Homo sapiens: one gene and its partners. The protein of the gene in region 4 purifies or fractionates together with the protein of the main gene of each other region. This does not show direct contact. Each region holds a gene or a part of one and is shown on either strand. Other genes may lie near its edges. The genes, in order: FAM76B, ISL2, LMX1B and IDI2.

What was found.
Region 1: the proteins of IDI2 (region 4) and FAM76B purify together in Homo sapiens (affinity purification with mass spectrometry; 3 studies listed by BioGRID and IntAct, with this or other methods). This does not show direct contact.
Region 2: the proteins of IDI2 (region 4) and ISL2 purify together in Homo sapiens (affinity purification with mass spectrometry; 2 studies listed by BioGRID and IntAct, with this or other methods). This does not show direct contact.
Region 3: the proteins of IDI2 (region 4) and LMX1B purify together in Homo sapiens (affinity purification with mass spectrometry; 3 studies listed by BioGRID and IntAct, with this or other methods). This does not show direct contact.

What each region holds. Positions count from the first base shown.
Region 1 is NC_000011.10:95,767,343-95,773,738, reverse strand, and holds the end of FAM76B (protein FAM76B), read left to right. Parts: intron 1-2,088; coding exon 2,089-2,178; 3' UTR 2,179-4,786; downstream 4,787-6,396. UniProt on the Homo sapiens protein: Negatively regulates the NF-kappa-B-mediated inflammatory pathway by preventing the translocation of HNRNPA2B1 from the nucleus to the cytoplasm.
Region 2 is NC_000015.10:76,331,828-76,340,814, forward strand, and holds the start of ISL2 (insulin gene enhancer protein ISL-2), read left to right. Parts: upstream 1-4,945; 5' UTR 4,946-5,056; coding exon 5,057-5,114; intron 5,115-5,950; coding exon 5,951-6,140; intron 6,141-6,424; coding exon 6,425-6,687; intron 6,688-8,448; coding exon 8,449-8,732; intron 8,733-8,987. UniProt on the Homo sapiens protein: Transcriptional factor that defines subclasses of motoneurons that segregate into columns in the spinal cord and select distinct axon pathways.
Region 3 is NC_000009.12:126,616,928-126,623,927, reverse strand, and holds part of LMX1B (LIM homeobox transcription factor 1-beta), read right to left. Parts: intron 1-7,000. UniProt on the Homo sapiens protein: Transcription factor involved in the regulation of podocyte-expressed genes. Essential for the specification of dorsal limb fate at both the zeugopodal and autopodal levels.
Region 4 is NC_000010.11:1,017,550-1,024,065, reverse strand, and holds the end of IDI2 (isopentenyl-diphosphate delta-isomerase 2), read left to right. Parts: intron 1-1,282; exon of another isoform or gene 1,283-1,290; coding exon 1,291-1,383; exon of another isoform or gene 1,384-1,429; intron 1,430-3,168; coding exon 3,169-3,299; intron 3,300-4,133; exon of another isoform or gene 4,134-4,231; coding exon 4,232-4,549; 3' UTR 4,550-5,156; downstream 5,157-6,516. UniProt on the Homo sapiens protein: Catalyzes the 1,3-allylic rearrangement of the homoallylic substrate isopentenyl (IPP) to its highly electrophilic allylic isomer, dimethylallyl diphosphate (DMAPP).

The DNA of each region.
Region 1 (6,396 bases), on a different chromosome or scaffold from region 4:
ATTTGAGTGCCTTCTGTGTACCAGGAACTGTGTTAGGCTAAGTGTTTTATATATTTGATAAGTTCCTTCAACTCATTTTGAGTTCGGATGGTGGAGTTTGTGTTACAAATGAGAAAATATGCTCCAGGTTATGTAGCTGGTAAGTAAGCCAGGATTTAAAGCAGGATCTATGTAATTCTTAATCCTGATATTCTTTCCTTTGCACCAACATGTCTAAACTTTAAAACTTAGCTTTCTTAAGAGTCTGTAAAGAATTTCATTGATTTTTTTTTTTTTTTTTGGCTGGCTGCAAAATGAAGTAATTTTAGGATAAAACAATTTAAATGTACATATATTGAAATATGGCATAAAATTCATTTTTAAAGTATTCAAATTAGAATAATTTGGACTTGTACTTAACAATTGTGTTATTTATTTACCATAAAGACTTTTGTCTTATGTAATTTATTAAGAAATATCTTTATTAGTGATATAAATATATTAAAAGCAAATTGGAAATTAGCTACCAAAGCATTAAATGGAAAAATTGCTTTGAAGACCTAATGTTCAAATTATTGTATTTTGTACTTAAAATATGAAAATTATAAACACTTTATTTCTTGATAATTGAGATAAGAACTTGGAGATTCACATTTTAACTATTTTGTATCAGTATAAACATTTTTAGATAAATATAACTTAACAGATCTAGTGGAGATCTTTTTGAGTCAAATTTGCAGACTCAAAATTTGAAATTGATACTGAATTTGAAATTGAAGTTTTTCGTTACCACCTTAGTTATTAATAACCACTGAATAGGAAAGTTCTATTGATCATGCATCTGAACATAAAAAATTATTTGATTTGCACATATAAGATAGTACTGAGAATATTTGCATTTTAGAGGTCATGGGTGTTAATTAGCAAGAGTGATTGGAGAAGAAGGGTGGGGGAATGGAAGAATAAAGTTTGAAAAAGGTTATTTCATGAAACCACTTTAAGATGGCATACAGAGAAGGCAGAGTGTTATCTGCCCGTAAAAAGCTAAAATTAGAATAAAATATGAAGTACTGAGATTAAAAAAGTCTGTCTATATAATAAAAATTCCTGGAACCTGTGAAGGAAAATGGTGTTGAAACATAAGTCAGAGGATATCTTTTTAAAATGTGTTAATTTTAGGGCAGTGCTCTATTTTCATCACTTTCCCCATTTTGGCTCAAACTACAAAAATGCTTGATCATTAATGTATTTGTATATATAGGGATCCTTACTATCTAAGTTTTCATATTTAAGAGACTGAATAAGGTGACAAAGGCAGTCAAAATGTGAAAATATTCACTGTACTTACACATTCCTCTTCACTAAACTAGTGATGGATGGACATTTAATAATGAAATTCAAGTCAGATGATGAAATGAAATTTTGAATCTTTGTAAAAATTCAAGCTTTCATGAGATAGGAAATGATGATGTGGAACTGCTCAAACCACACTAAAATCAGTGTCAGATGACTGGTAACTAAAGGAACAACAAGATAATGAGTGGTTCTGATGGGTGCTTTAAAAAAAATTGAATATCATTGGGTGCATTTGGCAAAGTAACAAATTCTGAGTTGTTTTTGCAAAAATGACCTCTTATGCTTGTTCTACAAGAGAGTAAACATAGAAAAAAGACCTTATACAGCTTGCCAGGAAATACTCCTCCCAAATCTTGATTCATTCTTTGATTTTATTAATTGTAAATTACAACTTATTTTCATAGTTTTCATGTTTTTAAGATGAAGGGCCAAACACCTTTTCCCTATTAAAATTTGGACCTTCTTTTAAGTGGATTCACTTTGTTTCCTTTTTTGTAACCAATTGTGCATCTTTGGACACAATTATATTAATAATGACATATACAAAGGGGGCTGATGAGCCAATCTAGAATTTTCCTTCTGCATGTTCATCCTTAAAGAGATGAATGTAAAGGTATCAACTCTTTCATTTAATGTTAGTGCTTTAGTGAAACATTTATATAAATGAAAACAGTATTAAATAAGTAGTATTCTTCAGCATGACTTAATAATATTTCAAACATTTTTAATCTTGAATGTTTTTGTCTCCCACAGGCCAAAAACAGAGAACTACTCAAACAGGTCGCAGCATTATCAAAGGGTAAAAAATTTGACAAAAGTGGAAGCATACTAACATCTCCTTGAGAAAGTCATTTGTTTAGCATTTCTTCTTACAATGTAAATTTGGGGAAAAAAAATTCTGTGAAGCCCTTAAATTCTGTGTAGTAGAAAAATATTTTTGCACACCAAATGAATTGGTGTGTTTCCTGTTCACTTTTGTAATTGATATACAGCATTTTTTAAGTTGTAAAACATTCAAATAAAACTTCAACTGGTTTGAAGTAACTTTTTAATTATTTGATATCCAGGAACTTTTTTGCCAGCAATAGTATTAAACAGTTGTAAAGGAGTGCATGAGTAGTGCTCTTTATGAAACGCAACATGCAATAATAGAGTAGGTATGGTTTCAGAAGTCAGAGCAGCAGGGTTTTTTTGTTTTGTTTTTGTTTTACACTATGCTAATTTCAGACAAACAGTTTTCAATTTAGAAATACAAAAACTTTTAAACTCGAAAAATGGCGAACACTGGTTTTTTGGGAATTGTGTTTTTACTTTGCATCAAGATGAATTTAGGAGAAAATCACGGTGCTTTTATTAAATGAACTTCAGATATATGTAAATTTGTTTTTTAAAGTTACATCATTAACATTAGTAACCTAGCATTTTCATTATTGGTATAGGAATTAATGTTTATTGTACAGTATCTAAGGTAAAATGTGTTTCTGTTTTGTAAAAACTACTGTAGATTTTTACTTACAAGTGCCTTTTTGCCACCTAATGTTTTTATTTATAGGAATGCTGATCTTTTGTACATACATTTTGTTTTAAAATCATGTTTAATAAATGTTTGTATATAAATGCATATGTACAGAAGCCTATTTCAAAAGGAAATCAAAGTTGCTAGTAAAATGTTTGAGATTACATTTAGAACTAACTGATAATGCATATAGATTGTAGAAAATTTTGTGATTTGTTTCTGTGTGATAAGGGAAGCTGTTGGTCTTTGAATTCATTTAATTATGTCAAAATAGTTCCCCAAAGATTTAATTTTAAGTTGCTTCTTAAAGAGTAATTTTATTTTTTATGTCATGTGGCTTCATATTAGTATTGTGTGAGTTACATGTTTTGCTTTATATTTTATAAAATTTTTTAAAAATTTTAATGTTTCTGCAATGATCCATGTATCTGCTTTCCCTATGTGTGGTTATCTAAGTTAATATTTATGTACAATGTAATTTGTAAATTTAAAGCAAATCTGAAAAAAATTAAATGATCTTTTTAATCCAATCTGTGATAATCTTTGAATAAATTGGAATCTACTATAAGATTCAGGCATTATAAGTAAATTGTCCTAAAGTCTTTAAAATTGTCTATAAAAGGTTAAGGTAGGGTGGGATAGGTTATATGAAGTTATTGACTATATTCTGATCCAGCGGTTTTCAGCCTGAAATAGAATTTATCTCCTAGTTATTATCAGTTCAGAGTTTTAGTTTGATTTTAAAGTATTGCTAGATACACTGTATAGAGTGAGTTGCTTCTCTTAATAATTTATGGGCAAAGATAAATTTGCTTCATGTAAAACTGTTACTAAATTTATAAGTTTTAAAGGTTTTGTTTTATACAAGCATTGATTGTGAATGTCATATCAAAGATTGGCTTTCTTAAGAACACATGATTGAAACAATTTTTTTTTAACATGACGTGTTTCAATAGACTGTTCTCATAGTTCATTATAAAGTGAATACCAAATAATTCTTTGTCCATTTTGAAAGCATAATATAGGGTAATTTTCAAGTGATACAAAAAGATTCAGTTAGAATCTTGTAAACTAAACCAGTTTATTTTTATGGGATCTTCATGTAATAATTTTCTTAAATTTAGTACTCTCAACCATGATAGATAATGCCTTAACATGGATTTTAACGTTTGCAGGATTTGCTAAATTCATAAGATAGTTATTACCTTTCTTTGAAATTTGTAATGTTTTATATTCTTGTTTCATAGCCATTTGTCAGTCCACAGTGGTCATTATGGTTTTACTTTTTGATAGTTCTTACACCTTGTTGGAGAAACTACAAAAGAAAGTTGTCCTCGTCCTTCCCCTTAGCTAACATCAAAATTAAAAAGTTGAATATTAATATTAGCTAACATTAAAATGGAAGGTAATTCAGTTTTAGTGTTAGCTAACATTAACAGTCTAATAATTTAGCTTTGTAAATTCCAAGGCTAAAACCCTTTCATGGGCTTCACAGTATTTAGTCCTAATTAAATACCCTTCTTTATTCCATGACCTTATTTTATAACTTAAATTTTTTTGCAATTGTATAAATTAGTAATTCAGTCCCAGTCCTGGATCTCTGTAGTGTTTTGACATAATAAACTGATATTCTTTAAATGTGGACCTGTAAGGAGATACTATGGTGTGGTGTATTGTGCTTTTAGCCTGTTTTCCACTATTAATTAGCATTTACCAGTAAGGGTCATTTTGACTCAAGTTATTTATGTATTAATAGCCTGTGAATATTGCAGTCCTTTTTAGATTATATTGGTCTAAATATGCATTCTGCAGTGAACCTGTTAAGCTGTTCACATGTATAGACTATTGAAATACTGTACTTGTACACATCTGACTGTTGACATTTTGTACTTTTTTCTAGATCCAATATTTCACAATAAAAAACTTGTCAAAGGCTTTGTATTAGTTTTCAATGGCTGCTGTAACAAACTCCCACACACTTAGTGTCTTAATACAACAAAAATTAATTCTTTTATGGTTCTGGAGGCCAGAAGTCCAAAATCAGGTTTACTGGTCTAAAGTCAAGGTATTGGCAGGATTGCTTCTTTCTGGAGGCTGTAGGGGAAAATCTGTTTTCTTGCCTTTTCCAGCTTCTAGAGCTGCATTCCTTGCATGCTATGAGCTCATTGACCTTTATCTTCAAAGCCCAAATTGTAGCATCTCAAATCTCTCTCTGCTGCTGTCATCATACCTTCTCAGAGTGTCTCCCTCTGTTCCCTCTCATAAGGACCTTATGAGAACATTATTGGCTCCACCTGCACAAACAACGTAGTTTTTCCATCTCGAGTTCTTAACCTAGTCACATCTGCAAAGTCCCTATTGTCATATAAGGTAATGTATTCACTGGTTCCAAGGGTTCGGGCATGGACATATTGGGGGACCATTATTGAGCCTACATAGCTTCATCTACATTTTACCCCCTTTTTCCAGTATGAAACCCTGAAACAACAGATACATGAGAGAAGTTTAGGCCAAACATTAGAAACTATTTTCCTGTCTGTCCATTCAGACCACTTTAGTGCAATAGTTATTTTTCCTGGAAGAAATAAATTTGCATCTAATTGAGCAAGTATTTCAAGCTATAGTTAAGTTTTTGAAAGCTTTGGAACATGACTAGTACCATGCTAGATTGTTTGATAAGTTAAAAGTTGAAGGTGTGATTCTTTCATTTGTAGACTAGGTGGGCAGATACTGTGCTTGGGAAAAAATCTGGAACCTAACTTTGGTATTATAAAGTGTAGTAAAAGCTAACAGCTTTTAGCAAGGGCATTTCAAGACTTCAGGTGTAGTCCCTTGTTTCTCAAACGTTAGTATACATCAGAGTTACCTGGAGGGCATGATAAACACATGTTGCTGGACCTTATCCCCAGTTTTCTGATTCAGTGGGTCTGGGATGGAGCCTAAGAATTTTCAGTTCTCAGTTCTCAGGTAATGCTGCTTCTGGCCCAGAGCTCACATTTTGAGAACTATCATTTTAATATTCCCTGCATTTCCCATACAAACTATACCATTGGGTAGGTAAGTAGTAGATGGGGGGTAGTTTCTCTTTAAAACATTCTAATGAAAAAGGAAGGATGGAATTGCAACATCACTATTTTGCAACCTCTCATGGAGTTAAGGATTGGTCATCAGCAGCTACTGACAATACACAAACACATTCTTAAGTGCTTTCTGATGGAGGAATACACTGCTACCTATAAAGTTTTGCCAAAAAGAATCAAACCTAAATCTGACGAAGCATCTACCAATTAACCAAAAATAGAAAGGATGGAAGATCATGTTGAGTGACACCAAAAGGATACAGTTGGCACAGTTGTTCAATAAGTTGCAAGCAGAGGGAATCAGTGGAGGGAGAACCTATAGTATAAAAGGTACTTAATATAAACCAGTCACAATATGTGACCCTGATATGGATCTGGAATCAAGAAATTAAAAATTTTTAACATGTATGAGAACTGAAAATTTGAACACTGGTTATGTAATGATTTTAAGGAATTAAGTACTGT
Region 2 (8,987 bases), on a different chromosome or scaffold from region 4:
CCTGGCCATTGAAATTTTTTTTTTGAAAATTTTGATGATTATATTTCAAGATTTTTTTCTGTGCATGTACATGCACATACACATACATAAATACTCAAACTTTTTTTAAATTATACTTTAAGTTTTAGGGTACATGTGCACAACGTGCAGGTTAGTTACATATGTATACATGTGCCATGTTGGTGTGCTGCACCCATTAACTCGTCATTTAACATTAGGTATATCTCCTAATGCTATCCCTCCCCCCTCCCTTTTTTTTTTTTTTTTTTTGAGACTGAGTCTCGCTGTGTCGCCCAGGCTCGAGTTCAGTGGCGCAATCTCGGCTCACTGCAAGCTCCGCCTCCCAGATTCACGCCATTCTCCTGCCTCAGCCTCCCGAGTAGCTGGGACTACAGGCGCCCACCACCACGCCCGGCTAATTTTTTTGTATTTTTAGTAGAGACAGGGTTTCACCATGTTAGCCAGGATGGTCTCGATCTCCTGACCTTGTGATCTGCCCACCTCGGCCTCCCAAAGTGCTGGGATTACAGGTGTGAGCCATCGCGCCCGGCCTGAAATTCTTAATAATTTTTTAAACAAAGGGTCGTGCATTTTTATTTTGCAATGGGATCTGCAAATTATGTGGCCATTCCTGCTCAGGAGATTGGTGGGCACTTTAATGAGACCTCATACGGCTGCTTAGCCCAGAGCCCCAGCTACAGCACGTGCTCAGTAACTTAGGGAAGAGAGAAGGGGACTCAGGAAGGAGTGAGAGGGGCCCAGCAGTGCCTGTGGGTACCTGTTTGCTCAAAGGGAATCTGGGGTTGGGGAGGCAGGCAAAGCTGGGGAGAGAGCATGGGTCTTGGATGTCAGGAAGCCTGAAGCCTGACCTTGACTTGCCAAGTTTCTTCCTGCCCCCAGGCCTTAGTTTCTTCTTTGAAACATGGTGCTCCATCCCTATCTCAAAAGCAAGTTCTCAGATGCCTGTGGTGGGTGAAGATGTGGATGCTGAGGCTGTCTCTGGCCTGCTGTATTCAACATCTCCAACTACCTTTGGAGAAGAGTAAAAGCCTTTGGGAGTGGGGCAGAAGGAGAATGGAGGGGGATGGAGCCTGGAGCAAGAGGAGAAGCCTGGTCCAGTGACTTAAGCTGGGCAGCAAGGTCTCAGCCCTGGACAGCAGAAGATCATCCAGAGGGAGTCCAGCAGGAAGAGGTCTGGCCTGGGTTAGGGGACCTGGCTTCCGGCTCCATCTCCATCACATGCTGGGTAACAGGTCACCAGGCCTCAGTTTCCTTCCTGATATTCACAGTAGGACTGATGCTCCCACACTAGCAACAGCTTCCTCTGTGTTGGCTGGACATTGTGCATGGGGCTGTGCCTTTGTAAGTGATGTGGTAGAGGAGGTTTTGGGGAGAAAATAATCAGGGAGACTTCTCTGTGCTTCTGAACTCTCCCCAGTACAGGCTAGTTTTATGGGATAAAGCATAGCTATGGAGCTCAAGCTGCCATTCCTGATAAGGAGAAAGTGATCTAAGACCCAGGATAGGAGGCACCCAGGTCTCCTGCATGCCAGCCTGGGATGTGGAGAGTGTGTGGCCCCTCCATACCTGAGAAGGGAGCAGCCAGGAGGCAGAGAACCAGGGTAGGGCCACATCAATGGTGCCTGTGGCCGTGCCCAGCAGGTGCAGGTGTTTTCTTCTCCCATGTCAGTGCTGGTCTCTCAGGGGTGGCTGTGACCAGAAGTCACACATGGAGTGATTTTGAAATGGATCCCTGGTTTTACAGCTCCAGAGATGTGAAATGGGTGAATGATGGAGCTACACTCATGTGGCTCTTCAATGGCACAGTGAAAAAAGCAAGCAAGATGGAGCCAGATAGACCTGGGTTCAATGCCAGCAATGATTTAACCTGTGACCTGAGGCAGTAACTTCCCCTCTCTGAGCCTCAGTTTCCTCGAGGATTGGAGGGGCCCAATACTACTCACCACATGGCATTACTTTTAAGACCTAATAGGCTAACAACAAGGACTTTGCACATGGTGGCCCTGAACAAATATTTGTTTTGACCTGGCTTCCTAGCATCCCAGGAGGGGTGACCCTCTCCAATCCCCACCTCCCTAGTGAAGTTTCAAAGGACAGGTTTTTCTGGACGGGAAGGAAGAGTTTCTCTGGGCAGGAGACGGTTAAAAGCTGGGACTACGATTCCAGCCTGGGGCTGCCCCCTCCTGGCCAGCTGTCTGAACCCCTGAATTATAGATGTGCTTGCTCCTGGCCTGGCGAGCAAGAGCTAGTAGGTGCTGGGAGCCAGGCCTAGTCCAGGGTCACCTAAGGGTAGGGCCATTGGGCCAGACGCACCTCCTCACTCCACATGCAGACACACACACCGAGTCCCCTCCCAGTTCTGACTGTGCACCCACATTCACAGATATAACCTGTACACAAAGTCTATGCACAGACCACACATCTCCAAACCCCATCTACACAGCAGACACACACACAGCAAGCACACATCGAAATCACAAAGAAATCATCAGATGACACATACTGAGACATACTTAGACCTCCCCTCCCCATCCAGACACACGCAGGCAGGGTGGGCAGAGGCTCCCAACATAAAGATACAGCCACAGTCATAACTGTCATAATTAACACATATGGAGCACTTACTCTGTGCTAGGTATTGCTCTAAGCCCTTTCCAGAGAACAGTTTATTTAATTATTATGTAATAGAGATAGCTACAATTATTATACCCCCATTTTACAGATGAGGAAACTGAGGGAAGGAGAATTAAAATAAGATGCCTGAGGTCACACAGGTGTCCTGGCACAGCCTCAGGCACAGATACCCACCCCCTCGCTCTTGTCCCCCATTTACATAAACACATTCATTCAAACGCAGCATCCCCCAACCCCTGACCTGCCCGCACACACTCAGGGTGAGCGCTCTTTGGGGGACTGTTGACTAAAGACGCAAGAAATGGCCTATTGGCCAACGGGTGGTAAACTGTAACAAGAGCCGGTCCGGTGGCCCGGCGCGGTGGCTCACGCCTGTAATCCCAGCACTGTGGGAAGCCGAGGTGGGCGGATCACGAGGTCAGGAGTTCGAGACCAGCCTGACAAACATGGTGAAACCCGGTTTCTACTAAAAATACAAAAATTAGCGGGGCGTGGTGGCGCTCGCCTGCAATCTCAGCTACTCAGGAGGCTGAGGCAGGAGAATCGCTTGAACCCGGGAGGCGGAGGTTGCAGTGAGCCGAGATCGCACCATTACACTCCAGCCTGGGCGGCACAGCAAGAGTCTATCTCAAAAAAAAAAAAAAAAAAAAAAAAAAAAAAGCCGGACCGGTGAGAAGACTAGACCTCCTAAAGGTGGAGGCGGAGCTCAAAAGCCGGACGCTACTGGACGAGGCTTAAAGCGCTCGCCCCAGCGCGGGGCCGGTGAGGAACGTTCACCGTGGACCATGGTCGAATAATGTTAGCGTGCACTCGGGGCCTCGCCCTAGCCTTCTGCAAAGCCTCGGCCTGCGCCCTCGGCTGCATCCGTTTCGACGCCAACCAACCTCATGCTCTTAGTAGAACGGCAGTAGCGACCGCGCCCTCAGGCCCACAAGCCCGAAGGTCTGGGCAGGGTCTGGAATGGCGGTGGAGACACTTTATCCGCAGGCGTTTCACCTCGCGCCCCACCCAGGCGCACACCAAGTTCTTGGTACTCCTTTTAATGGGAAAACAAGAACAGACACCATGGTTGGATAAATGTTATTTATAATTCATGGGCCGGTCTTTGAACCCTTTCAAACAAAACCCACAGCGATTTCTTTGAAAGAATGCCTGGACTGTGCTCAGAGCTCTCAGATTTTCTCAGGACCAACGAGCCGCCGCCTCGCAGATACCACTGTAAATTACCCAGCGCCTTACGTTCGTTTCTGATTATTTGCATTGCAGTGGGTTTGTTAATGAAGGACAAGAGTTTAGAAAAATCTTTTATTTTGGAAGTTGGACACGCAATCGACCCCAGCAGTGTTCCTAAAAGGAGCTATGCCATTTGGATGGGGGAAAAATGAGGGGGCGGGGAAGTCCATGTTACATTTAAAACAACAACAGCAACAAATTAAAAGCAAAACAAAACAACAAAAAAAAGGAAGTGGAGCAGGAGGAGGAGGTGGTGGTGGAGGAGAGGGAGGAGGGGCAGCAGCAGCGGCAGCAGCAGCAAGGATGGAGTCAGGACCCGTCCCAGTCCCGGGTGAGCGCTTTTGGATCTGGGTTCTGGCTCAACCCACGTAATGCCCCAATCTAAAGTTTTCTACGTGTGTGTGGATAGGAAAGTCTAAATAGAGTTTATCAGAACCCAGGTGGTCATTCTCTACACTCTCTCTAGCTTGGACCCGAAGAACAAAGGCACATGAGAGGAGAAAGGTGACCAGCTGGACGATGACGGTCACGTCCAAACGGATCCCCCTTGTCCTCGGCTCTCTCGTCCTGAGAGTGGGTTTAATTTTTTTTTTTTTAATTTATATAAGAAGGGAGCTCTTAAAGGAGAGCCATCTCCACCCTCAGGTATCCATCACCCAGCTCCAGCGCGCCTGGGAAAACCGCCCCGAAAGTCCAAGAGGAAGCTCAGAGTTGTAACGGCCGCGGAGCCAGCTCGGCGGTGACGCAAGGTCCAGTCCAGATTGCCAGGCCCGGGGCATGAGAGAGGATCCTTGTAGGTTTCGGAGGTGGGGGGGCTGCACTCCATTGTTCACTCCGGGCCAATCAGGGTTGGCCCACTTCCTCCCAGCCAATCTCCCTTCACCCCCAGCCTCCAACCCAACCCACCCCGCCCATCAGCCCCTGGATCCCCATCACCTCCCCCGCATCCCCGGCAGTTCTGGGGAAGCTTCGTGACGCCACAGGTCCCGCCCCCAGCTCCGGCCCGGGGCTAGTGCGTGTTGACGTCATGCTGCGTGCGGGCCGGTGCGGAATCGCTCCTTCAACTCCGCGGGGCAGTAGGAGTTAGTTAGCAAAGAGCCGAGGCCGGGCGCGCGACCCTCGTCCTTCTGCCCCTGGCCGCACACTTTGCGCACATCTCTTTTTCTGCATGGTGGATATTATTTTTCATTATCCTTTTCTGGGTGCTATGGGTGATCATTCCAAGAGTAAGTATTTCTGTGTGTGTGTGGGGTGGGGTGTGTGTGTATGCTTAATATGCAAAATTTCTAATGCAGAAAAATGTTTAGTGGATTCTACAAGTGGCTTCTATTTGTCAGAATAGTTTAGGAGAGGAAAAACGAATGCATGTCTCCTGCAGGACTGCTTATCTTTGGGAATCCTGTTGTTTTATTTTATAAGTAAACACTATTTCTCAAGCCGGCTAGGATGACTTCGGGCTGCGAAATCTGCTTCTGTTTTGCGCAAAGGCAATTAGGTTTGATTTAGGGATGTGGGTTTTTTTTTTTTTGGTTGTTGTTTGTTTGCCTTTCGGTTTTTCAAAGCTAGGAAGCTTTCTTTCGCTTGCTCTGGGATATTTAAACTAAGAAATGTCTGAGAGGATGAGCGGGGACTGCCGAAAGACGATGTGTCTGTGTTGGGATAGGAGGCAGCCGCTGTGAGTGGGAGTGTGTGAGCGGAAATGCCAGGACAGCACCGTTAGGTGTTGATATCCAGGCGTCCGCAGTGCCTGTGTATTTACTCTCTTCTTAGTTTCGTGTTTGCGTTTAGTTTCAAGACACGTCGACAAAACGACTGTCATTAATGAATGTAATAACGAAATATTTGGGGTGGGGGACAGAAGAAACCTTCAGCAATCCACAAGATACTGGTTTTTCGTTTCCAATGCCCTGGACCTTTAGAGAGCTCATCATCTTTCCTTATGGTCGCAAGTCTTGAAAGAAAGAGCAAGAGAGCGAGCGGGTTGGGTTGGGGCTGGAGTAGCCGAGGCCGGCCTGGGTCCGGGCAGTCAGGCCTGACGCGGCCCCGCGCCCTTCCCCGGCAGAGAAGCCCGGGACGGCCATGTGCGTGGGCTGCGGGAGTCAGATCCACGACCAGTTTATCCTGCGGGTGTCGCCCGACCTCGAGTGGCACGCGGCCTGCCTCAAGTGTGCCGAGTGCAGCCAGTACCTGGACGAGACGTGCACGTGCTTCGTGAGAGACGGGAAGACCTACTGCAAGCGGGACTATGTCAGGTGAGGCCGGCGGGAACGCGGGCTGGGCCACCGCGCGCAGGGGCCGGGGCCGGGACTGGGGATGGCGGCCTGCCCGCGCGCCCCGGCCCTGCCCAGGGAGAAGGCCATCCGCATCCCGCACGGGTGCCGCAGCGCTCCCCCGGGCCCGGGAATGCCCGCAGGCGGGTCACCGCAGTCTCCTGGTGGCCACAAAGTGTCCTGGGCGCGCGCCGGAGCCGTAGCAGCCAGGGAGATGAGGGCGGCCGCAGGCCCAGCGCTGACACCGCCGCACCTTGGGCCCGCAGGCTGTTCGGCATCAAGTGCGCCAAGTGCCAGGTGGGCTTCAGCAGCAGCGACCTGGTGATGAGGGCGCGGGACAGCGTGTACCACATCGAGTGCTTCCGCTGCTCCGTGTGCAGCCGCCAGCTGCTGCCTGGGGACGAGTTCTCGCTGCGGGAGCACGAGCTGCTCTGCCGCGCCGACCACGGCCTCCTGCTCGAGCGCGCCGCGGCCGGCAGCCCGCGCAGCCCCGGCCCGCTTCCCGGCGCCCGCGGCCTGCATCTGCCCGGTAAGCGCGCCGGGGCCTGTGCCGGGGTGAGCGGGGTGTATGTGCGTGCGTGTGTGTAGGGGTACGCTTGTGTCCCTAACGAGAAGTTGTCAGTTGTGTGTGGTTCCGTCTGCCGGGATAGTGTTTTTCTGTATCAGTGCGGAACTGTGTGCTGGGAACAAGGCTGTGTGTATTCTCGTGTGCTCGGGAGAAACTGCGTGTGTATGAGTGTGTGAGCACGGAGAATTGTGCAGAATCGTGTTCTCCATGACCAGGAACATGCAGGGCACAGTGCTAGGAGCAGAAGAGTGGATGACAACAGGGAATCTTAAGTGGTGTCCGTCTTGGGGCTTGTATTAGGAATTTCTTGGAGGAATATGTGTTATTGTCAGAGGGTAAGGTTTGCCCAGGGGTATGTGTGTAAGTAACACAGCTCCAAACTGGGAGCTGGGCAGGAGCTTGGTCAGCCAGGAGCCAAGAACCCAACAAAGAGGGGTTTTTGCCATCTTGTTTTGAGGCCCAGTTTGATGAACAATTTAGCCAGGTTCTTCTGGGGGAGGGGGAGTATCAATGCATAGTGGACTGTCACTGGAATATTCTGGGTCCTAATCAGCAGCTGCCCAGAGATGGGGTCTGAGTGTATAATGGGCAGGTACGGCTGAACAGAAACAGAGGTGCCTCCACCCCAGGCAAGGCAGTTTCCCCCAGGTAGCCATAGGCCTGCAGCACAGATCCGTAGACCAGGCTGGGCCTCTGGGTGCTGTGTGGCCTTGCCCCGCTCCTCCCCTCTCTGGATCTTCACTTCCTCCCTATAGAAAGAGGAAACTGGGCTGGATGGGCTATTTGTAAATATTTGTCCAGACCTAGAAATTCGTAGAGGGGAACATAAACCGAAATGGTGCAGTACAGATCCACGGTATATATGGGTCGGGATCAAATGGAGATGTGAAATGGGAGCAAGCGGGTATTCAGTGCACCCCCATCTGGGATCTCGGAGAGGCTCCCCTTTGTTTGTTTCGGGCTTCAGGGTGCAGGCTCTGGAATCAGTCACTGTTTCCCCGGGATGGAGAGAACCTGGGGCCAAGCGAGGAGAGTGCCAGCGGCTGCTCAGCACCTTGGTCGGTGGGAGGCCACTGGGCTGGGGAACCTGGAGCCTTGAGGAAGGAGACAGGGGCCGAAGCCCAAGGGCGGGCAGGAAGGAACTGTTGCAAGCCCTGGAGGCCCGTCCATAACCGTGGATGAGTCTTCTACACATGTGGCCTGGCCCTGTCCAAATGGGCTCTGAAGGAGGGGAAGGGCCCTCGTAGGCCCCCGGCATATTCGCACCTCCCACCCAGTCCCCTGGGCAGCGCCTCGCCCTGGGTCCACGTCGGTCCCTTTCCCTCTCCAGAGTCCTGGGCAAGCCTCTTTCCTCTTCCTCTGAAACTCCGACTTCTTCCGGAGGGCTTCGCTCGTTCCGAGGGTCCTGCGACTGGAGGAGGCACATCCCTGAGCAGCCACTCCCTCCCCGCAGCGGCCTGTCGCCGAGCTCCCGCGCCCTGCTTGAGCTCGGGAGAGATCGCTGCGGGGCAGTCCGGCCCGGGAGCGAGAGAAAGAACGAAAATGCACAGCTCTCTCCGAGTAAGGCGAACAGATGGAGAGGAAGACGAACAATTAAACGAAACAAACAGAATAAAACAGAAACGAAATCGGGCCCCGGGGGGCTGGGCCACCCGGAGGTTGGGCTCGGGGCGGGTGGGTGGCGGCCCCTCGCTAACCTCTGGCCTCACCCTGTCCTGGCAGACGCTGGGTCGGGCCGGCAGCCCGCGTTGCGCCCGCACGTGCACAAGCAGACGGAGAAGACGACCCGCGTGCGGACTGTGCTGAACGAGAAGCAGCTGCACACTCTGCGGACCTGCTACGCCGCCAACCCGCGGCCCGACGCTCTCATGAAGGAGCAGCTGGTGGAGATGACCGGCCTGAGCCCGCGGGTCATCCGCGTCTGGTTCCAGAACAAGCGCTGCAAGGACAAGAAGAAATCCATTCTCATGAAGCAGCTGCAGCAGCAGCAGCACAGCGACAAGACGGTGAGCAGCCGCTGGGCCGGAGGCTCGAGTCGGGTGGGGGCTGCGCTTCCGCCGCGGTATCTGCGTGCCCTTTTCTGGGCGAGCCCTGGGAGATCCAGGGAGAACTGGGCGCTCCAGATGGTGTATGTCTGTACCTTCACAGCAAGGCTTCCCTTGGATTTGAGGCTTCCTATTTTGTCTGGGATCGGGGTTTCTCCTTGTCCCAGTGGCAGCCCCGCGTTGCGGGTTCCGGGCGCTGCGCGGAGCCCAAGGCTG
Region 3 (7,000 bases), on a different chromosome or scaffold from region 4:
GAACCGCCGAGAGGTGGGCCTGGAGGGGTGCGCGGGTGGAGGCCGCTGAAAGCCGCCCCATCCGCGTGTCCGGACGTCGAAGGAAGCTCTCCCGCCCAGGGGAAGGCAATTATTCTAACCTTTTTCTTCCGCTGGCCAGGGCTGGCCCTACAGGGGGCAATCCGCGCAGAGGAGGTCAGTGACACCCTGCTCCCAGCCCTCGGGTAGCGACTCCCCCTCCCCACCCCTCCCAGGCTGGGCGTTCTGGGGGAGATTAGCAACAATGTAGAGCCCGCACCTTCCGGAAGGTCGGTATAGGAGGACTTAGAGAACCCATCCGGCTTTGGGAGTTGGACCCGCCTGGGGGGGAAATCTGCTACAGGGTAACTCTGGGCCGGGAAAAATCTGCTACAGAGTTAACTCTGGGCCTGGGGAAGTTGTTCAAGCTGCTCAGCCTCAGTTTCCTCCCCTAACCACAGGGTTGGGACGGTACAGACAGTGAACTTCACAGGGGCTCAACAAACGCCAATGCCTTGCCCTTCTAGAGGCACTACTGCAGGCTGCCTCCCTGTTCAGTAAGGCGCTGCTCCTGCAAGTTCACATCTACACTGACCATGCTCAGGAGTCTCTTGGAAAAAATGGGACCTACGTGTCTCAGTAGTAATGAGGGCCCATCCACAGGCTGGCCTTGGCTCCGAGGAGCAGCCTCTGGCATCCAGACCGGCCCCATGCCCTTTTCAAGGGAAAAAAAATAAAAATAAAAACACAGGCTCCCAACCTGGGTGAGGAACAGAAGGGTGGGCAAGACCCCTCTGGGAGGCCTGTTCAGGAGGCTGCACTTTCTGGGCCTCCCACGCAGGACAGACAATGCATTCCTGCCAGACGGGGCTGCCTTCGGCTCATTTCCCAGCAGGAAGGAAGAAAACATACATTGACTGCATGCCCAACACTGGCTGGCATCTGGGTTTGTTCCACTTTATTCTCAGAGCAACCCTGTAAGATTGGAATTACTACCCCCTTTTCACAGAGAAGGGAACTGAGGCTCAGGAAGAGCTGTCAGTCCTTCCCTAAAGGCCCTTGGCCTTTGTCACTGGGAGATGGAGACATTCTGGATCCCCATTCTGTAACTGCCAACAAGCTTGCTCTTCCTTTGAGAAAATGTGCCCCACCCAGGACCCCTCCATTTGGAGGAGGTCACCCCAGAGCACCTTGATCCTCTGGAACCCCAAAGGCCTGGGCAGCTCAGTCCTGGTCTGGCGCCCACACCCAACAGCCCAGTAACTATAGCAATCCAGGAATCACACGACAAGAGTCACAGAGTCCCCTTGGAAGGCAGGAGGCGGGAGAAGGGGGAACAGCAGTCACACCCAACTTGTCCCATCCCAACCCAGTGCTGCTCCTCCCCTCCCGTCACCGCTGCTGAAGTTCCTGGGGAGGCGCTTGGGGGAGGGACCCCTGGCGGCCCTGTGTCTCAGCATGCTCAGCTCATCTTCAGCTACCCAGCAGCTCGGTGGCCTCCTCATTCCTGCCAGCCCCAGTGGGCATCGCTGTTGCTCTGGGTGGCCGTCACAACCTTCCCCAGCTAGCCACCTCCCCACAGTTCCCGGGGAAGCCTCTCTCACAGCACTGGCCCGGCCAGGAAGCAAACATCTTTGTTTCTTCTGGAACCAGGCTCCAGGAACCGGGTTTTTCCTTCAGCAACACTTCCCCCCAGTTCACCAAGTGCCAAGGCCAGCCAGGTGCTCTGCCATCAGCCAGGACATTCGTCCAGGGCTGGTCCGAGCCAAGCTCCCAATTGAGACAAAGCCTCCCCACAAATGTACCCACACATCCCCAGATCCCCAGCCCCTCATCCTCCCTTTGGGGCCCCAAGGTCAGCAGGGCAGGTCCAGCGGCTGCCAGTCAAAATGCTGAGCAGAAATGGATACAATATTATCCAGGGAATAACAAAGGAAGGGCCCACGCAGAAATTTATTTGTACTGATCAGGCAAAGCAAAGGTAAAGGGCAGAGAGGAAGTGCTGTCAGCCGGCCTGAAACCCAAGAAAGTTGCCATTCCGAGCACAGTGGCCCCTTATGCCCCACCACTCCTCACCGCAGCAGTAGTTAAAGCAAACACAAGCCCTTCACTGCCCCGTCAGTTACACCTTCCCCCCAAAATTACACAAACTTTGAAACATTTTTCTGAGAGAAGATGGATGCTTCAGGAGACTTGAGGTCAAGGCTAGGCTGTTTAAAGTCTATTATCAACAAATAAACATTTACTGCAAAAAAAAAAAAAAAAAAAAAAAAAAGAAGAGAGAGAGAGAGAAAAACCCTATAGGCCACCGGGGAACCAAATCATGTTGCTTTTGGCATCAAATGACAGGAGACATTTATGACATGAATGGAGAACACCAGCCGGTCGATGAAATGGCAAACGTCTGCCACTTTGCTTCCTCTACCTTCGTGAATCAACTTTTTCAAATATGGTTTTCAGCCTTAGCCCTCTCTCACTACCACCGTCTCTCCACTTCTGACTGCAGTGGTAATAAATATATATAATTTTGGTTTTGCTCTTTGCTGCCATCAGCACAGAATCTGGTTGGAGAGGGCCAGAGGAACTTCCGGCTGGGTCAGCCAGACAGCCAAGGGCCCTGGGTCCTCGGGCACCCCCAACTGACTGACAGCTCACACGCGGCTCCTTGGATGAGTAGACTATCCCTCCCTTCCTCCCTCCCCTGGCTGAGGCTTGACTGTGGTGTCCAACAAATTGGAAGTTATAACTCATGTCGGTGAGAGTATCCTCCATCCTTCAGCCTAACTGATGCCAAAGTAGGACTGGTTTTTTTCCTCTTCCTTTTCTTTATTTTTTAGAAACTCCAGAGCCTCAGGACAAAGGCGGCTCCTTGGAGAAGCATCGCCAGCCACCCATGGGTGGAAACCTCACAAGGCCACAGAGCCCGAGCTGGAGGGGCCTTCTGAGTTCCTGGAATGGTGTTTCTCCACCTTTTAAACCTCATCTTCCTTCTGAGAAATAGACAAATCCCCCAGACCTCTCCTCCACCTACCCCCTTCTCCATTGGCTGAGCTTTATTTTCTGTGGCTTCAATCACAAAACAGTAAGTACAAACAGTTCTTCAAATATGAATTATTAAGCTTTTCCAAGCTATATGGAGGCCCTGGAGATGCCAATTGTTTCCCGGTGGAAATACTGTTGCTCTGGACCACCCTCTGTTTGCCACCAAAGGAAAAAGAGCCAGCACACCCGGCCACCCTCCGTCTGCCCCCAAGGAGAAAGAGCACAGGACACCCGGCCACCCTCCGTCTGCCCCCAGGGAGAAAGAGCACAGCACACCCGTCTGCCCCCAAAGGAGAAAGAGCCCAGCACAGCTGGCCACCCTGTTGTGGCCCTTTCTGATAATGCAGTTGGCACCTGTGCGCACCCACACAATCAGGTTTTCCACCTCTCTTGAGGTGCAGGAGAGGATAATGGATCCCCCGGAGAATGGAATATTTATTAAAGTTCCACCAGGTGCCTGTGTAATCCTCACAACCACCCTGCAAAGTCACATCATCACCCCCAGTTTGTTGATGAGGCCCCAGCTCAGAGATGGGCAACCACTTAGCGAAGATCACACAGCTGCTAAGACTTGGGGCTGGGAGGTGAACTCAGGTCTGACTCCGAGTCTAAAGCTCTTTTCATGGCTGAGGAAGGCAAGACTTTTACAGTGTCCTACGAAGGGAAAGGCAATGGCTTCCCCAGGGTGCTCCTCATCCTCCCTGCATGGAGAGGCTCATGGTAAACCCTGTGTACCATGGAACCTGGGTAGAGAACCTGTTGGCAGTGTGGTGTGTGTCCTTGGAGACAAGGTATTCCCTGCCATGCTCATGGTGAGAAGAGTAACAGCAATAACTTCCAGAGTATTAATAACAAGCCAGGCAAGATGCCAGGTCCTTTGGGGCACCTTATCTCAAGTCCTTATAAGAATACTTGCCCCCAGCAGAATAAGTCCCCATTTCACAGAGGAGGATCAGGTAGGTGCCACGGCCGTGGGTCTCTAAGCCTGGCTCCAATGGACAGGGCAGGAAAGAGCTGACAGTCACCAATCACATACCCCAGAGGAGATCCTCCCAGCCTGCTTCCCCCACTCAAGAAAAATAGGGCAAACAAATAAGGCCACACCAGCCCAGCGCCCGGGGAGTCGAGGGTGAGCCAGGAGTCACTGTGAATAATGCCTCCGTTCAGCAGCAGGGGACTGCAGCCTCAGGAAGGCCTGTGCTTACCGTCTTGCACACAGCCAAGGTGCCGGGGTTAAATGGAGAGGTACCCTCCAAAGGGCCAGAGGGTCCCCAGACTTGGGCTGCCAGGGTGAGCCCTTTGGGCCTCAGCCCCCAGAGACAGCACCATAGAAGCCTTTTTGTAAGGCAAAGTCCTGGCTCCTCCTCCCAAGCAGTTTCCAGGACAGGCGCTCTGCAGCCCTGAATGAGTTTGATGGTTGGGGCAGGGGGGCTCGCTGGTTGGGGTACACACTGGGGAAGGGGTGCTGCTTGAGACTGGCACCCTGCAGGAGGGCCTATGGGAGGCCTTCCAGGCTGGCAGAAGAAGTAGCCAGAGAAGGCCGGAGCCTGACTGCTCTCCCCCTGGGCCACACCCGAACGCGGGAGCTGGATGGGGAGTGTGGGGGGAGAGGTGAGCCTCCCAAGAAGGTCTTTCCCGGGGTAAACACTTCCAAGGAAAGGAATGCGCAGGGCAGAGCGGTTGGGCCACTGGAGCCACAGCCAGCTGGGGGAAATTTTTTAAAAACTCACCCCAGGACTCAAGAGGGCTTTCTGTGAAACTCAATCAAAGCCTCGATGCTCCCCTGCTGCCAACGTAGGCACATCCTACCTGGACAGGCGAGCCCAAAGGGCCCCCAGCGGGCCCGGCGGAGCCCTGAAGTCTGTGTCGCCGAGAGGCTCGGCCGCCCGGGCAGGCCCTGCGGGCGGAAGGACGCCGCGGCCCCGCCGCCGAGGTAGGAGCGCGGCCCGGGCCGGAACCCCGCGTCTCGCCGTGCACAAAGGCGCCCGCTTGCACCCCAGCGGGTCTCGGGTCGCCAAACCTGGGAGCTGTCTTACAAGCGATTAGACTCCATTTTGTGACAGATTTTTGGACTCTCCCACCGACCCTCCCCCCTTCCGGAGCCTCCTCCAGGAATTCTCCACCTCTTCAGGATAAAAACCCTTTCCAGACGAGCGACAGACGGCAAGAAAAGAGAGTTACATAATTCTATTCGGCCAAGCCGCCAAGATAAAAACATGGGAGGGGGGAAAGTGCCTTATTTTTCATTTGTTCTCCGGTGGAGGACGGTGAGAGGTGTTCTGATTTGGGGGAGGCTGCGTTTCCTCTCCGTTTCCTAACTGGTTTTCTGTCCGAAAAGGCTGCTTTTTCTTTTTTTTGAAGGAGCCCCCAAAACTCACACATGGGGAAAAAGGAGACTTTTGGAGTTAAGAGTGAAAATGCCCAAACTCCACGGCCGGCGCTCTGCTCTGCCCGCCAAGGATGTACAAGAGGATTTTTATCAAATTCGGCTCAATGTGCCCCAGTGTCAATTAATCACCCCCGTGGTGCGTAAGACAACTTGGCACTTCTGGGTGTCTGGGATCTTTGAGAACAAATCGAAAGGAAGAAGAGACATTTACTAAAAATGGCAACCTCTTTTTAAGGACGGAGCCCTGCAACTCAGCCAGGGGTGAGGACACATTTTTCAGAAGTTGTGTTTGGTGGGGGGATTGTTAATTTCTCAATACCGCTGACGCACAGACTCGACAATATCAAGAAGGCACGTTTCTGCGCCCGCTTGCTTGGATTCCTGTCTGAAAAGCATTTACGCACAGATGAAATAAATATGCATCTGCAATTCTCAAAGAAAAAAAGAAATGTGAATAAAAAAATTTTTATTGTGCAAAGAACATCCCTTTCCAGTGGCTGCTGCCTGCCTGGAGCGGCGCTCCATCTCCCTGTGAAACGACTCACTGGCTATTTGTCCTGATAACAATCACCCCACCCCCCACCCCCCACCCCCAGCACATCCTGCCGGCCGGCCTAACGCAGATACCTAATTGGCGTTATTGGAAAAAATAGAATGAGGGTGGAGGAATGAACTGTCCACAGCTAGAATAATGCACTCCCCACCCCAGGCTTCAGCCCCACAGGATCCAGACTGAGTGAGGTCTTCGGACCTGAGATTCGCCCTGTGCCAAAAATCATTCTCAACACACCGGACTGCACTGAAGAAGCTGGCTGTTAGGTGACTCTTTCCTTTTCTTTTTAAAACAAATATACTTTGGACAAAGCAGTAGCAAATGCTTAACGTTTAATTGTTTTGTAAGATGAGGGGGTGAGCCGCTCATCTCTAAGGCAACATCCAGCTGAAATTTCGTGACTTTACCATTCTGTGCCTGAAGAACCAGGGGTTATCCTTTCCTTTTTTTTTTTAAAGAGAAGCTCCGTAAATAATTATGGGGAGTGGGGGGAGGGCAGAATATGTACACGCGATTCATAAGTCTTTTCAATATATTAACAAGTTTTTTTCTTTTTTTTAAGCTGTGCAAATGATTTGGAGGCCGGTTTTAGTTTCCTGGGCCCCCTTCCCCCATGTGTTGTCGTAAAGGCTGGTGGCTGAGCTGGGTGTAAGTGGCACTGCCAGAGCTCGGGATCAGGCAAGCAGAGTGAGGCCAGGGGTGCAGGGCGTGGTGGGGAGGGGGCTAGAGGCTGGTGCACCCTACAGAGGGGCTCCTCTAGCCAGCCCAGAGCCCACAGCCACATCTACCCCAAACTATTTTCCCCATTCAATTTGTGCTGCTCTATGCTTGGGCTGTGACTGAACGGACTGGCGTCTCCCTCTCCCGGAACTAGAATCATATTAGTTCAGAGCACAGCACAAAGCCGACCTACGGCAGTGTGCCTAAATCTGGGGTGCTTCCTACTGAGAGGAAGGCCTCAGCTGCACTCTGGGACCAGCAAAACAGCTGAACCTCTGAATGGACTCCAATCCCTACCC
Region 4 (6,516 bases):
AGTAAAGTCAGACTTTCCTGCTTTAACTCCTGTCCAGCTCTGGTTTTCTTTGACCATCTTAAGCCATTTTATTATTTTTTAATTTTCATTTTTGTGTCTTTTTTATAAACACATAATAATTATGCATATTAATGGGGTACATGTGATAGTTTGATACCACCATGTCATGCATAATGATCAAATAGGGCATTTTGGGATATCCATCACCTCAAACATTCATCATATCTTTGTGTTGGGAACATTCCAAATCCTCTGTTCTAGCCACATTGAAACATATAATACACTGTTGTTAACTACAGTCACCCTACTGTGCTATTGAACAGCTGATATTATTCCTTCTCTATCGCGGTATGTTTATACTTATTAACCACCCTCTCGTCATCCCTCCCCACTGCCCTTCGCAGCCTCTGGTGTCTAGCATTGTGTTTTCTGCCTCCATGAGATCAACTTCTTTAGAGCCCACATAGCAGTGAGAACATGTGATACTTGTTTTTCTGTGCCAGGTTTGTTCCACTTAACACAATGGCCTCCAGTTCCATCCATGTTGCTACAAATGACAGGATTTCATTCTTCTTTTTTTTTTTTTTTTTGAGACAGAGTCTTGCTCCATTGCCCAGGCTGGAGTGCAGTGGTGCAATCTCAGGTCACTGCCAGCTCTGCCTCCTGGGTTCATGCCATTCTCCTGCCTCAGCCTCCCGAGTAGCTTGGACTACAGGCACCTGCCACCACGCCCAGCTAATTTTTTTGTATTTTTAGTAGAGACGGGGTTTCACCATGTTAGCCAGGGTGGTCTCGATCTTCTGACCTCGTGATCCGCCCACTTCAGCCTCCCAAAGTGCTGAGATTACAGGCGTGAGCCACCGCACCCGGCCCGATTTCATTCTTCTTTTGTGGTGGAATGGTATGCCACTGTGTATCTAACCCTCATGTTTTCAACCCTTCAAACCTCCACGGACACAGGTTGATCTCATATCTTGGCTGTCGTAAATGGTGCTCAGCACCCAGGAATGCTGCGATATCTCTCTGATAGACTGATCTCTTTTATTTTGGATATTTGCCCTGGTAGTGGGATTTCTGGGTCATCTGGTAGATCTATTTTTAGTTTCCCGAGTGTTCTAATCCGCTGAGATTCTGAAACGTTGTGTTTGGGCATCCAGCAGTCCCCTTTGCCCTGCCCAGGTGCCACAATCACAGGCTTTTCTACGAGAAACAGACTGAGGACAAAAAGCACGAAGGACAATCGTACAGACTCCAGGCATGCACTCACACAAATGGCACTTACCTTTGCAGGGCTGCTGCACCGAGCCTTCAGCGTTGTCTTGTTTAACACCAAGAATCGAATCCTGATACAGCAGAGGTCGGACACGAAAGTCACGTTTCCTGGTGAGTCCGTTCAACCAAGCCCCGGACTGAAGAGAGCATCTCATGTGACTTGACCGGAGGAATCTGGGACAGGAACTCTCTGGTGCTCAGTGCCGCACTGTGGTGAGCTGGCAGCTCATCCTGCAGAAAATCGGCAGCTTAGGCAGATGCTAATTATGCTGATAGCTCTTCAGTAGGCTGGGTTTTCTTTTTTAAAAAAGTAAGAAACTATATGAGTTTCTGGGTTTTTTTGTTTTGTTGTTTCTTTGCAACGGCAAGTTACTTAAATGCAGAGGAATTTATCAACCTAAGGATTTAGGGGATTAAAATAGCATTTAGCATAAAATTAACTAGGTAATAATAATAAAAATTATCTTACAGGTCTTAGAGTTTTAATTATCTTGTACTTCTTAAAATTACAACTTAAAATTTTTTTTTTTTTTTGGAGATGGAGTCTGGCTCAGTCACCCAGGCTGGAGTGCAGTGGCGCCATCTCGGCTCACTGCAAGCCCCGCCTCCTGGGTTCACGCCATTGTCCTGCCTCAGCCTCCCAAGTAGCTGGGACTACAGGCGCCCGCCACCACACCCGGGTAACGTTTTGTATTTTTAGTAGAGACGGGGTTTCACCGTGTTAGCCAGGATGGTCTCGATCTCCTGACCTCGTGATATGCCTGTCTTGGCCTTCCAAAGTGCTGGGATTATAGGCGTGAGCCACCGGGCCCGGCCAAAAAATTTTTTAGAGGGGAACAGCATTTACGTCAATTGTGGTCATTTAAAGTGTTTTGGCCTAGGCTGTCCTCAAATTTTCAAAACCAGACCTTGCCTGAGCCATTAAAGCGAATGGCTAAGCACGGCCAGCTGTGGCCGAGGTTTTCTCCTCCCTTAGTTCTTCCTCGGAGCCGCAGTGGGTACATCCTGCCCATTCCCAAACCCACCACCATACTTGCTGGTCAAGTTGTACTCACGGGCTCCTTGATGGAGCTGAATGCAAAGTTTGTTTCAGAAAAATTCAGGAGCTGCAAAGTTAAGAGGGTCAACTGTAGTACATAGTCAACAGTTTGCAAATAAAGCCCCTGGAGCTAAGATTTCCTATCATGTGTTAGCCGCCTCCAGGATACATAGGGGCAGGTGGGAGTACCAGCTCTTGTACTTGCAAGAGTGGATTCAACTTCAGCCAAACTCCTTGCAGAGTGACCGAAGGAAGCACTGAGGGTCTGAGGAACGAGAGGGAACAGAGATTTACTGAGGAGAGTGTGACCTCCCGTCATAGCGCTATTGCTGTTACTTGGGTAAATTAAGTAGAACCTCTCAGTAAGGAAACTTGGTCAAAGGTATTCCAGCAGTCTTCCTGTGAAACCATGCTCACTGATCACCACCCTCAAAGTGCAGCCCAGCTTCCTCAGCCCAGCTGGTGCAGCCACCCAGCCCACAGCCCCACCACCTCCTCCCGCCACCCCATGGCATCTCAGGTCCTCTGTGGGTACAAAACTGAGTAGGAACCAGTCCCTCTCCTAAGACATACTGGGATAGTGCCACGGGACATGTGTGTGCACATCTGCAGGAAGGGCCGCAGGAGCGGTCAGGGCCAGCCCCGCCAGGTGGTCATGTGGAAGACCCTCACCAAGCCCACAGCCGTGGAGGCTGGAGGCGAGTGCTGCTCTGAGAGCCCATGACAAACCCACTCCCCCCGCCAGGCTGTCTTCTGCTGATGACGGATGATGGTTTTACATGAAGCATCTGCATTTGTATTTAATATATTCACTTTTCAGGAATAAAGAGGGATGTTCCCACATGCATTTTTTCCAGGGTATTTTACCGACTCCTGTAGTAGCCACCCATTATACAACCCAGCAGAACTGGAAGAAAAGGATGCCATCGGAGTGAGGAGGGCAGCCCAGAGGCGTCTGCAAGCAGAGCTGGGAATTCCTGGGGAGCAGGTACACACAGCATCCAGTCTCAGCTGTGTCCACGGGAGTCCAGGTTGGCAGCGGGCAGACGGTGAACAAAGTCCAGGCTGGATCTACACCATTGACCTCATGAAGCACCATGAGGATGAAGGATGGGGCTGTGGATGGGGCTGTGAATGAGCTGTGAATGGGGCTGTGAATGGGGCTGTGAATGTAGCTGTGGATGGGGCAGTGTGAGTCCCTATGTGTCCCAGGCAGGGTTGAGACTGTGCAGGAATCTGTCGACCACACACCGAAGAGGAAATTCAAGCCGGGCGTGGTGGCTCACGCCTGTAATCCCATCACTTTGGGAGGCCGAGGCGGGCGGATCACAAGGTCAAGAAATCAAGACCATCCTGGCCAACATGGTGAAACCCCGTCTCTATTAAAAGTACAAAAATTAGCTGGGCGTAGTGGCACACGCCTGTAATCCCAGCTACTTGGGAGTCAGAGGTTGCAGTGAGCCGGGATTGTGCCACTGCACTCCAGCCTGGCGACAGAGCGAGACTCCATCTCAAAAAAAAAAAAAAGAAAGAAATTCAAGTGTAGAAAGAATGTCCAGGATCCTGTGAGCATGTGTTACCTTCATCCACTCAAGAACACGTTTAAGAGAGGATGGATGTTCTCCTGACAACGCTAGCCGGTTTCTACGGGGTTTTCTGTTGAGGATGTGTGTGTGACACGGTTAGTTCTTTAAATGAAGACAGACAGGTTTACTGGAACCAAGAAACCAAAGCCGGTTTATCATTCAGACTTGAGTCCACAAAAATTTACTTAGCTAAAATCGAGGTTTTGGAAATTATCAATTACCAAAGAAAGTGTTCATTTTCTGAGGAAAACAAATGTGTTTATTTTCTCTATTTTTCTGTAAATTCTGTGTTTTACATTAGCGTTGTTAACACTGCACCAATTTCTGTCAATAGATTTCTCCAGAGGACATTGTGTTCATGACAATCTATCACCACAAGGCAAAATCAGACAGAATTTGGGGAGAGCATGAAATTTGTTACCTTCTGCTTGTGAGGAAAAACGTCACTCTGAACCCGGATCCCAGTGAAACGAAAAGCATCCTCTACCTGTCCCAGGAGGAGCTGTGGGAGCTGCTGGAGAGGGAGGCGAGGGGTGAAGTCAAAGTCACCCCCTGGCTAAGAACCATTGCCGAGAGGTTTCTGTACCGGTGGTGGCCTCACCTGGATGACGTGACCCCGTTTGTGGAGCTTCACAAAATACACAGAGTGTGAGAGGCAGGGAGGTCGAGTCAGCCATGTGTAATGCCCTCAGTGCAGGCAGACGCACCATTGAGGCAATGATACACCCTCTCCAAAAAACAGGGCAAAAGGGGCACTTGATTGCCCATCATGTATAAATCACTATTTCAACCTTTTCATCAACTTTGTCATATCTTCATTTTCCCTTTTCCTTATTTCCATATTTCTCATCTGCCTGGTTGCAGGGAGGAAATTTAACATTTCCTTTGTCCCAATTTCCATTTTATAAGCACTTGTTTGATTAACAGCAGCTGATCCTGAAAGTCTTGGGGAGATCTTGAGAGTCCTGAAGCAGGCGGACTAGCCTGGCTGGACCATGAGGCTGTCTCCCCACAGCTTTATCCAAGCCTCCAAGGTCAGGATGGGATCTCTGTATCATGTTTTTCTTTTTAAATCACTTATTTCAGAGTGCAACACAAGGCTGCATTTTTAAAAAAAAGACACATTCAATCTTGCATCCTAATACAAGCAGTACGGAAGATGCGTATGGTCTCAGCCAAGTGACTCGACGTTTATCCACTTCTGTTCATTTGATCGTTTCAGTAATATGCTTACAAATAAAGACATACTTGCTTTAAAACATACTGTTGTTGTTTAACACAAAGTAAACTATATGTTAAGTTTTGGTGTTTAATACGGAGAAAGAATTTCAAAAACCAGACCTGGTATTTTTTTTTTTTTTTTGAGATGGAGTCTCGCTGTCGACCAGGCTGGAGTGCAGTGGTGCGATCTTGGCTCACTGCAAGCTCCGCCTCCCGGGTTCAAGCCATTCTCCTGCCTCAGCCTCCCAAGTAGTTGGGACTACAGGCGCCCGCCACCACACCCAGCTAATTTTTTGTATTTTTAGTAGAGACGGGGTTTCACCGTGTTAGCCAGGATGGTCTCGATCTCCTGACCTCGTGATCCGCCTGCCTCGGCCTCCCAAAGTGCTGGGATTACAGGCATGAGCTGCCGCGCCCGGCCATACTGTTGTTGTTTAACACAAAGTAAACTATATGTTAAGTTTTGGTGTTTAATACGGAGAAAGAATTTCAAAAACCAGACCTGGTATTTTTTTTTTTTTTTTCACACGGAGTCTCTCTCTGTCACCCAGGCTGGAGTGCAGTGGCACGATCTCGGCTCACTGCAACCTCCGCCTCTGGGCTCAAGCAATTCTCCTGCCTTAGCCTCCCGAGCAGCTAGGATTACAGATGCCCACCACCACGCATGGCTAATTTTTGTATTTTTAGTAGAGATGGGGTTTCACCATGTTGGCCAGGCTGGTCTCGAACTCCTGACCTCCTGATCTGCCCACCTCGGCCTCCCAAAGTGCTGGAACTACAGGCTTGAGCCCCTGCGCCCAGCCCAGCCCTGGTAAATTTTTAAAATTGCCACATGTAATCCAGAAGTGTGATTAACTAAAGTCCTTTCCTCAGCTATAATGTTGATTGTGTGACTTGATAACTTATCCGTGGTGGCTCTTGGACCCCTGTGTGTCTTTGGAGCTCCAGGAGCACACGGACCCCTGGGCAGGTCCCTCCGACCCCACAGCTCTTCACCCCAACGCTCCCCAGCAGGTGCTTTTGAGGTGGCATTGGCGGTGTTTTTGTGTTTTACTGAACATGTAACTTCAGGGACGGGCCACAGAAATAGGAGAATGCCCATATTTAATTGCCTAATGCCTCCAGCAACATTTTACTCCCCCAAAAGTATTTTTGCTTTAAAACAAAATAGAAATGTCATGTTGTTTGCCTTTTTATTTGGCCAAATCCATAGCGACTATAACTAAACCAAAACATGAGCTAAGTAAATGAAAACTACTTTCTTCTGGAGGTTTATTTTGGATAAAATAGTTGAAGACAGACTACAATGAGACATTGTAAAATAAGACTAGAAAATAATTTAAGAGCGTATTTTAAGCACGGGATTCCGACACACTCATAAACGTGTTTGCTCCCAGC